Linked DNA regions of Homo sapiens: region 1 is reported to be linked to region 2. The links are microRNA targets in miRTarBase. Many come from high-throughput screens and were not tested one by one. Region 2 holds a microRNA gene; the other region holds the end of a gene's coding sequence.
What was found. Region 2 holds the annotated microRNA hsa-miR-7155-3p (UGGCCCAAGACCUCAGACC, at 1,294-1,312, opposite strand). A microRNA usually pairs through its seed, bases 2 to 8, with sites in the 3' UTR of a target mRNA and lowers its output. Matches are read on the target gene's strand: a 7mer-m8 pairs with bases 2 to 8, a 7mer-A1 pairs with bases 2 to 7 and ends in A, and an 8mer does both.

Region 1: the mRNA of TSPAN31 is a reported target of hsa-miR-7155-3p. The part of its 3' UTR that is shown has no 7-base or 8-base seed match.

What each region holds. Positions count from the first base shown.
Region 1 is chr12:57,746,596-57,749,985 of GRCh38, reverse strand. It overlaps TSPAN31 (tetraspanin 31), which reads right to left. Exons shown (of 6, transcript NM_005981.5): 4 at 3,266-3,390; 5 at 2,855-2,968; 6 at 1-2,770. The coding sequence ends at 2,696. It overlaps CDK4 (cyclin dependent kinase 4), which reads left to right. Exons shown (of 8, transcript NM_000075.4): 6 at 482-532; 7 at 669-804; 8 at 1,369-2,259. The coding sequence ends at 1,461. MIR6759 (microRNA 6759) reads left to right here and starts at 1,304; the gene lies at 1,304-1,368.
Region 2 is chr11:64,340,556-64,343,945 of GRCh38, forward strand. It overlaps MIR7155 (microRNA 7155), which reads right to left and starts at 1,349; the gene lies at 1,294-1,349. CCDC88B (coiled-coil domain containing 88B) reads left to right here. Exons shown (of 27, transcript NM_032251.6): 2 at 52-197; 3 at 352-463; 4 at 554-623; 5 at 715-773; 6 at 866-949; 7 at 1,044-1,187; 8 at 1,439-1,584; 9 at 1,739-1,820; 10 at 1,967-2,125; 11 at 2,624-2,770; 12 at 2,952-3,060; 13 at 3,223-3,359. LOC102723878 (a long non-coding RNA gene) reads right to left here and starts at 237. Exons shown (of 4, transcript NR_188518.1): 1 at 1-237. RefSeq lists silencers at 188-267, 288-337, 2,202-2,496.

The sequences.
Region 1 (3,390 bases), not on the chromosome of region 2:
CTTGCTCTGTCGCCAGGCTGGAGTGCAGTAGTGCGATCTCTGCTCACTGCAACCTCCACCTCCCAGATTCAAGCAATTCTCTTGACTCAGCCTCCCAAGTAGCTGGGACCACAGGTGCACGCCACCATGCTCAGCTAATTTTTGTACTTTTAGTAATGACAGGGTTTCACCATGTTGGCCAGGATGGTCTCGATCTCTTGACCTCATGATCCACCCACATCAGACTCCCAAAGTGCTAGGATTACAGGCGTGAGCCGCTGCACCTGGCATTTCTTTTTTTTTAAAAAAAGAGACAAGGTCTTGCTTGCCCAGGCTGATCTAGAACTCCTGGGCTCAAGCAGTCCTCTCACCTCAGCATCCCAAAGTGCTGGAATTGTTGGCCTTTATTCCCTATACTTCCTATTTTGAGCCACTAAGCAGTAACCATTCAACTAAGATATCTTTGAAAATGACTGCTACCTTATATCCCTTCTCACCTTAGGCCTCTCTTCTGTGGAAACTCTGAAGCCGACCAGTTGGGCAAAATCTTTGAGTAAGTGACCAACATGGGAGAAAAAGATTTTCTATTCTGAGTCCTCTTTCTGCTGAACCCAGGATGGCAACTGGCTCTGCCCATGGGGATGGGAACTGGAGGACCCTCCTGACCAGAGTTCTCCTGTCCCCCACAGCCTGATTGGGCTGCCTCCAGAGGATGACTGGCCTCGAGATGTATCCCTGCCCCGTGGAGCCTTTCCCCCCAGAGGGCCCCGCCCAGTGCAGTCGGTGGTACCTGAGATGGAGGAGTCGGGAGCACAGCTGCTGCTGGTACTGGAGATGGCTGTGGGCACAGGGAAAGAAATAGAGACTGGGGAAAGAAATAGAGCAGTATGCAGGGCCCTGGCCACTGTGGTTAATGAAACTTGGTTGGTAGATGGGCTGTAGTTTTTATTACAGCTGCAAATAGCCACCCACAGAGAAGGATATAGAAGAGAACCCATCCTGGCTGGGCACGGTGGCTCACGCCTGTAATCCCAGCACTTTGGGAGGCCAAGGTGGGCGTATCACCTGAGGTCAGGAGTTCGAGACCAGCCTGGCCAACATGGTGAAACCTCGTCTCTACTAAAAGTACAAAAATAAGCCGGGGGTGGTGGCACACGCCTGTAATCTCAGCTACTTGGGAGGCTGAGATAGGAGAATCACTTCAACTCAGGAGGCGGAGGTTGCAGTGAGCTGAGATCATACCATTGCACTCCAGCCTGGGTGATAGAGCGAGACTCCGTCTCAAAAAAAAAAAAAAAGAAAAAAGAAGAAAGCTCATCCCAGGTATTGTTGTGGGTGGGCAGAAGTCTGTTTTCTTCATGGTTTTCTGACCTTTGCCTCTCCCCTCAGGAAATGCTGACTTTTAACCCACACAAGCGAATCTCTGCCTTTCGAGCTCTGCAGCACTCTTATCTACATAAGGATGAAGGTAATCCGGAGTGAGCAATGGAGTGGCTGCCATGGAAGGAAGAAAAGCTGCCATTTCCCTTCTGGACACTGAGAGGGCAATCTTTGCCTTTATCTCTGAGGCTATGGAGGGTCCTCCTCCATCTTTCTACAGAGATTACTTTGCTGCCTTAATGACATTCCCCTCCCACCTCTCCTTTTGAGGCTTCTCCTTCTCCTTCCCATTTCTCTACACTAAGGGGTATGTTCCCTCTTGTCCCTTTCCCTACCTTTATATTTGGGGTCCTTTTTTATACAGGAAAAACAAAACAAAGAAATAATGGTCTTTTTTTTTTTTTTAATGTTTCTTCCTCTGTTTGGCTTTGCCATTGTGCGATTTGGAAAAACCACTTGGAAGAAGGGACTTTCCTGCAAAACCTTAAAGACTGGTTAAATTACAGGGCCTAGGAAGTCAGTGGAGCCCCTTGACTGACAAAGCTTAGAAAGGAACTGAAATTGCTTCTTTGAATATGGATTTTAGGCGGGGCGTGGTGGCTCACGCCTATAATCCCAGCACGTTGGGAGGCCAACGCGGGTGGATCACCTGAGGTCAGGAGTTCGAGACCAGCCTGACTAACATGGTGAAACCCTGTCTCTACTAAAAATACAAAATTAGTCAGGCGTGGTGGTGCACACCTGTAATCCCAGCTACTTGGGAGACTGAGGCAGGAGGATCGCTTGAACCCGGGAGGCAGAGGTTGCGGTGAGCCGAGATCATGCCATTGCACTCCAGCCTGGGCAACAGAGCAAGACTCTGTGTCAAAAAAAAAAAAAGAATATAGATTTTTAAATGGCTTTTACTTTTATATTCGCTAAACTTTCTCAAACTGGATCCTGCTTATTACAGGAAAGAGTTCTTGGTTGTTTTCTCCTTGGCCCTATCCCTGATTTACCCTTAGAGCCACACCAGGGTATGTTGAGGTGATCCAGTATATGGACAGAGGAAGGGAAACAGCTAAGAATGACTCCAGCCCCCATCCTATGCACTCACAGAAGCTTCCCATATCCTCTTGGAGAGAGAGGAAGAAAGTTTTTCCTTTTATTCCTTATAGTCTGGCTCCCACTAAAATATGTCAAGGCATAAAGTCTTGCTATTCCATCAATTTTAGAGGATGTGACAAGGGGCCTTTCCTTTTTCTCAAACCAAAACGGTTACAGACCCTAGATATTCCCTAAGGGAGGAAGAGAAAGCTTAGAGAGAGCAGAAGAAAAGTCAGAAGGATCCAAAGTCTCATAGAAAGGCACTGGGGTTGGCTCTAGGATCCTTCTGATTCCGAAATCTCATTGCTAGCCAAACACCAAGGATCTGTAGGAACAAAGGGAGAGAGATAAGTATCAATTAATTCTCAGTCTCAAAAAGGATGTGTGTGAGGGAACTGGAGAATGTTACCTCTGTAAAGCTAAAGAAGAGTCCAACACCCCCTAGGATTTTCAGGGCTTCGTCTGAATGCTTAAGAAACTTTTCTCCACACATCTGGCATGTGGGGCTCTGGCTCTTGCAGATCTGAGGATAAAACGTGAAGAATGCAAAGTTGTGAATGTAAAGTTGCTAGTGACTAATACCTATGCCGAATGTCCCTAGAAACTTTACTGTTATCTGACCAGTGTCCTACAAACTAAAATCCTACTTGGCTAATTCCCCAGCCTCTATCCACCCCCACCTCCCACCAACACAGCCCCAATACAAGAGGGCTTGTAGAGAGAGAAACAATGACATTCAAACTAAATTTGCCAACTTGGGCATTGTCCTTACCCAGTTTCCTACCTCCCCTGGCTGCTGCACCACCCCCAACACACTCACTGCAGTGCAGAAATCATAATCTTGTTGATACAGGGTTGTGAGGTTGAATAAGCCACAACAATCAAAACTTCTTTCCAGTTCATCCCGAGTCTTGTTGCTCATGACCCACCAAGAAGCATTGATGA
Region 2 (3,390 bases):
GGGCTCAGGGTTCACTCTGCTGGTCGGCTGACCCCTCTGGGCTCCTCACAGGCGCTGGGACTGGCCGGGCTGGTCGGGGAGGCGGAGGACTCGGAGGGGGAAGAAGAGGAAGAGGAGGAAGAGCCGCCCCTTTGGTTGGAGAAGAGATTCCTGCGCCTCAGCGATGGGGCCCTGCTCCTCCGGGTGCTGGGCATCATGTAAGGGGCATCGGGCCGGGGCGGTGGCGGGGAAGGATCTGAGAGGAGGGGAAGCGGGTGGGCGGAGCCTGATGCTCAGTGGGCGGGGCCTGAGGGACGGTGGGCGAGGCCTGTTGACGGGAGGCGGGTCCTCGAGCCCACCTCCGGCTCATAGTGCCCCCAGCTCCCGAGGGGGACCTCGGATGCTCAGAGGCCTTGACGGACCTGCTGCCTGGCGAGTGTGGAACCTGAACCACCTGTGGGGCCGACTGAGGGACTTCTACCAGGTAAGGGGTCTCGAGGGAAAGGCGGAGACAGGAGGGGAAGAGGAGCCCCTTCGGGAAGGCGCCTCATATAGTCTGCCTCTCTGCCTCCAGGAGGAGCTGCAGCTGCTGATCCTGTCGCCACCCCCAGACCTCCAGACATTGGGATTTGACCCTCTCTCAGGTGCTCTCCCCACCCACACCCTCCTGCCTCTGCCCCCGCACTACTCTACCTTCCCCGCCCCAGTTAACCCCTTGTGGCATGTGCCTTGCAGAAGAAGCGGTGGAGCAGCTGGAAGGCGTTCTTCGGCTACTGTTGGGAGCGTCAGTACAGGTGAGCCGGCGGTGGGAAGGAAAGGTTAGGGTCGAGCTTTGGCGGTAGAGGAGGGAGATCCTGCACCAGCTCCCCTTCCTGTCTCCCCTCAGTGTGAGCACCGGGAACTCTTCATCCGCCACATCCAGGGCCTCAGTCTCGAGGTCCAGAGCGAGCTGGCCGCTGCCATCCAGGAGGTACTGAGACGGTTCGGCAGCCCAGACTGGTATGGCACCTGGGACGCCCTTGCCACACCGCGGCTTCCACTGAACTGCTCTTCCTGCGCCCCAGGTGACCCAGCCGGGGGCCGGCGTGGTGCTGGCACTGTCTGGGCCAGATCCTGGGGAGCTGGCACCTGCCGAGCTGGAGATGCTGTCCCGGAGCCTGATGGGGACACTGTCGAAGCTGGCACGGGAGCGTGACCTGGGGGCCCAGGTAGGGGCAGCAGGGGCATCGTGGACTCAGGTTGGGGAACTGGAGGACCATCAGGGAGCCGGTTGTGCAAGGGAGATGGAAGTTTGGGGCCCAGGCATGGGGTTGTGGTCTGAGGTCTTGGGCCATCAGTGATGTCACAACCAGATGGCCCAAGACCCCAGACCACAACCCCATGTCTGGTGTTGTGGTTGGGGGTCGATGTGCAGAGGCATTGGATAAGTTAGTCCTGACCCTTGACCCCTGACCTACAGCGGCTGGCTGAACTGCTGCTGGAGCGAGAACCCCTCTGCTTGAGGCCTGAGGCTCCCTCTAGGGCTCCCGCCGAGGGCCCCTCGCACCATCTGGCCCTGCAGCTGGCCAACGCCAAGGCTCAGCTGCGGCGTCTGCGGCAGGAGCTGTGAGTGTGCGCAGCCTGGGAAGGGGACTGAGTGGAGAGGGGCAGATTAAGCCTGGATGGGACCCTAGCCCTGGTGGCTACGGGAGGGGTCAGGCCTGGGAAGGGCTGGGGGTTGTGGGCCCCCAGACCCTCCCTAGACTCCCCTTCCCTCCAGGGAGGAGAAGGCCGAGCTGCTGCTAGACTCCCAGGCCGAGGTGCAGGGTTTGGAGGCCGAAATAAGAAGGCTCCGCCAGGAGGTGCGCTCACATGCTCCCCGCCACCGCGGCATTCCCTAACCTCCCCGCACCCGGTCCCATTGCCTCCCTCCCAACCCGGCTCCTTCCCGTCCCTAATCCCTCTGGCCCGCGGCTGGCTGTTCCCAGCTCCACACCGTCTGGCCCAGGCCCAGGCGCTGTCGGGACAGGCCAAGCGGGCCGAGCTGTACCGCGAGGAGGCAGAGGCGCTGCGGGAGCGGGCCGGCCGCCTGCCCCGCCTGCAGGAGGAGCTGAGGCGCTGCCGCGAGCGGCTGCAGGCGGCTGAGGCCTACAAGAGTCAGCTGGAGGTGAGGCGGAGACGGAGCCGCGGGGCGGGGCGTGCGCGAGGGGGCGGGCCAGGAGGAGGGGCGAGATTGGGTCCCGAGGGCAGAGAGGCAGGTTCTCTGGAGGGGACAGTCACAGGTGGAGAAATGGGTGAGGACAAATTCAGGGAGGTGGCGTCTGGGAAAGGGCCTCCAGAGGATGGGGCAGGTGTAGGGGAGTGGGGGGGCTGTGTAAGTGATGCAGCCTTGGAAGGAGGGCTGTTCCCGGGGGGGAGGGGCGGGGCATGGACAGAAGGGCGGGGCCTGCACAAAGGGCGGGGCCAGGGGCGAGGGAGAAAGTACCTGAAGAGATCTTGGTGGGAAGAAGATGGAAGGGAGTGGCGGGGCCTAGAGACTGATGGGGTGCAGGGTGGGGGAGGGAGGCAGGGTCTGTGACAGGCTGAGGGGAAGGAGTTTGGGACCCTCAGGCGCTGGAGTGCATGGGGGCTGCGTGGCTACCGGTTCTCCCTGCTCTCCCACCAGGAGGAGCGGGTGCTCTCGGGGGTGCTGGAGGCGTCCAAGGCGCTGCTGGAAGAGCAGCTGGAGGCTGCCCGAGAGCGCTGCGCCCGGCTGCACGAGACCCAGCGCGAGAACCTGCTGCTGCGAACCCGGCTGGGCGAGGCCCATGCGGTAAGGTAGCCAGAGTGATCCCACTTGGGTTGCCCCGTCACCCCATGACCCCATTGATTCCCTAGTGGTCCCTAGTGATTCTTGCAACCTCTGCTCTTGGTGACCTCTAGTGACCCTCCGACCTACACACTCGGCCTGGCCATGGTGTGGAGGGCTTGTCTGACCCTTCCCTCACCCCCAGGAGCTGGACTCTCTGCGGCATCAGGTGGACCAGCTGGCTGAGGAGAATGTGGAGCTGGAGCTGGAGCTTCAGCGGAGCTTGGAGCCACCTCCAGGATCCCCTGGGGAGGGTGAGGGACCCCACTGGAAGGGCTGGGGTGGGGGCTTCCTATGCTTTCCAGCAGTGTACTGGGGAGAGCCTCTGACTCCCTCCCTTCTCCCAAGCCTCTGGGGTGTGTATGTGAGGAGCCAGGCAGTAAAGGAGGGGTCCTGACCTCATCTCTCATCCTCAGCACCCCTAGCAGGAGCGGCCCCCTCGCTGCAAGATGAGGTGAGGGAGGCAGAGGCTGGGCGGCTTCGGACCCTTGAGAGGGAGAACCGGGAGCTTCGGGGGCTGCTTCAGGTGCTTCAGGGGCAGCCAGGGGGCCAGGTAAGTCCCCTCCCCCAGGGTCCTGGCCGGC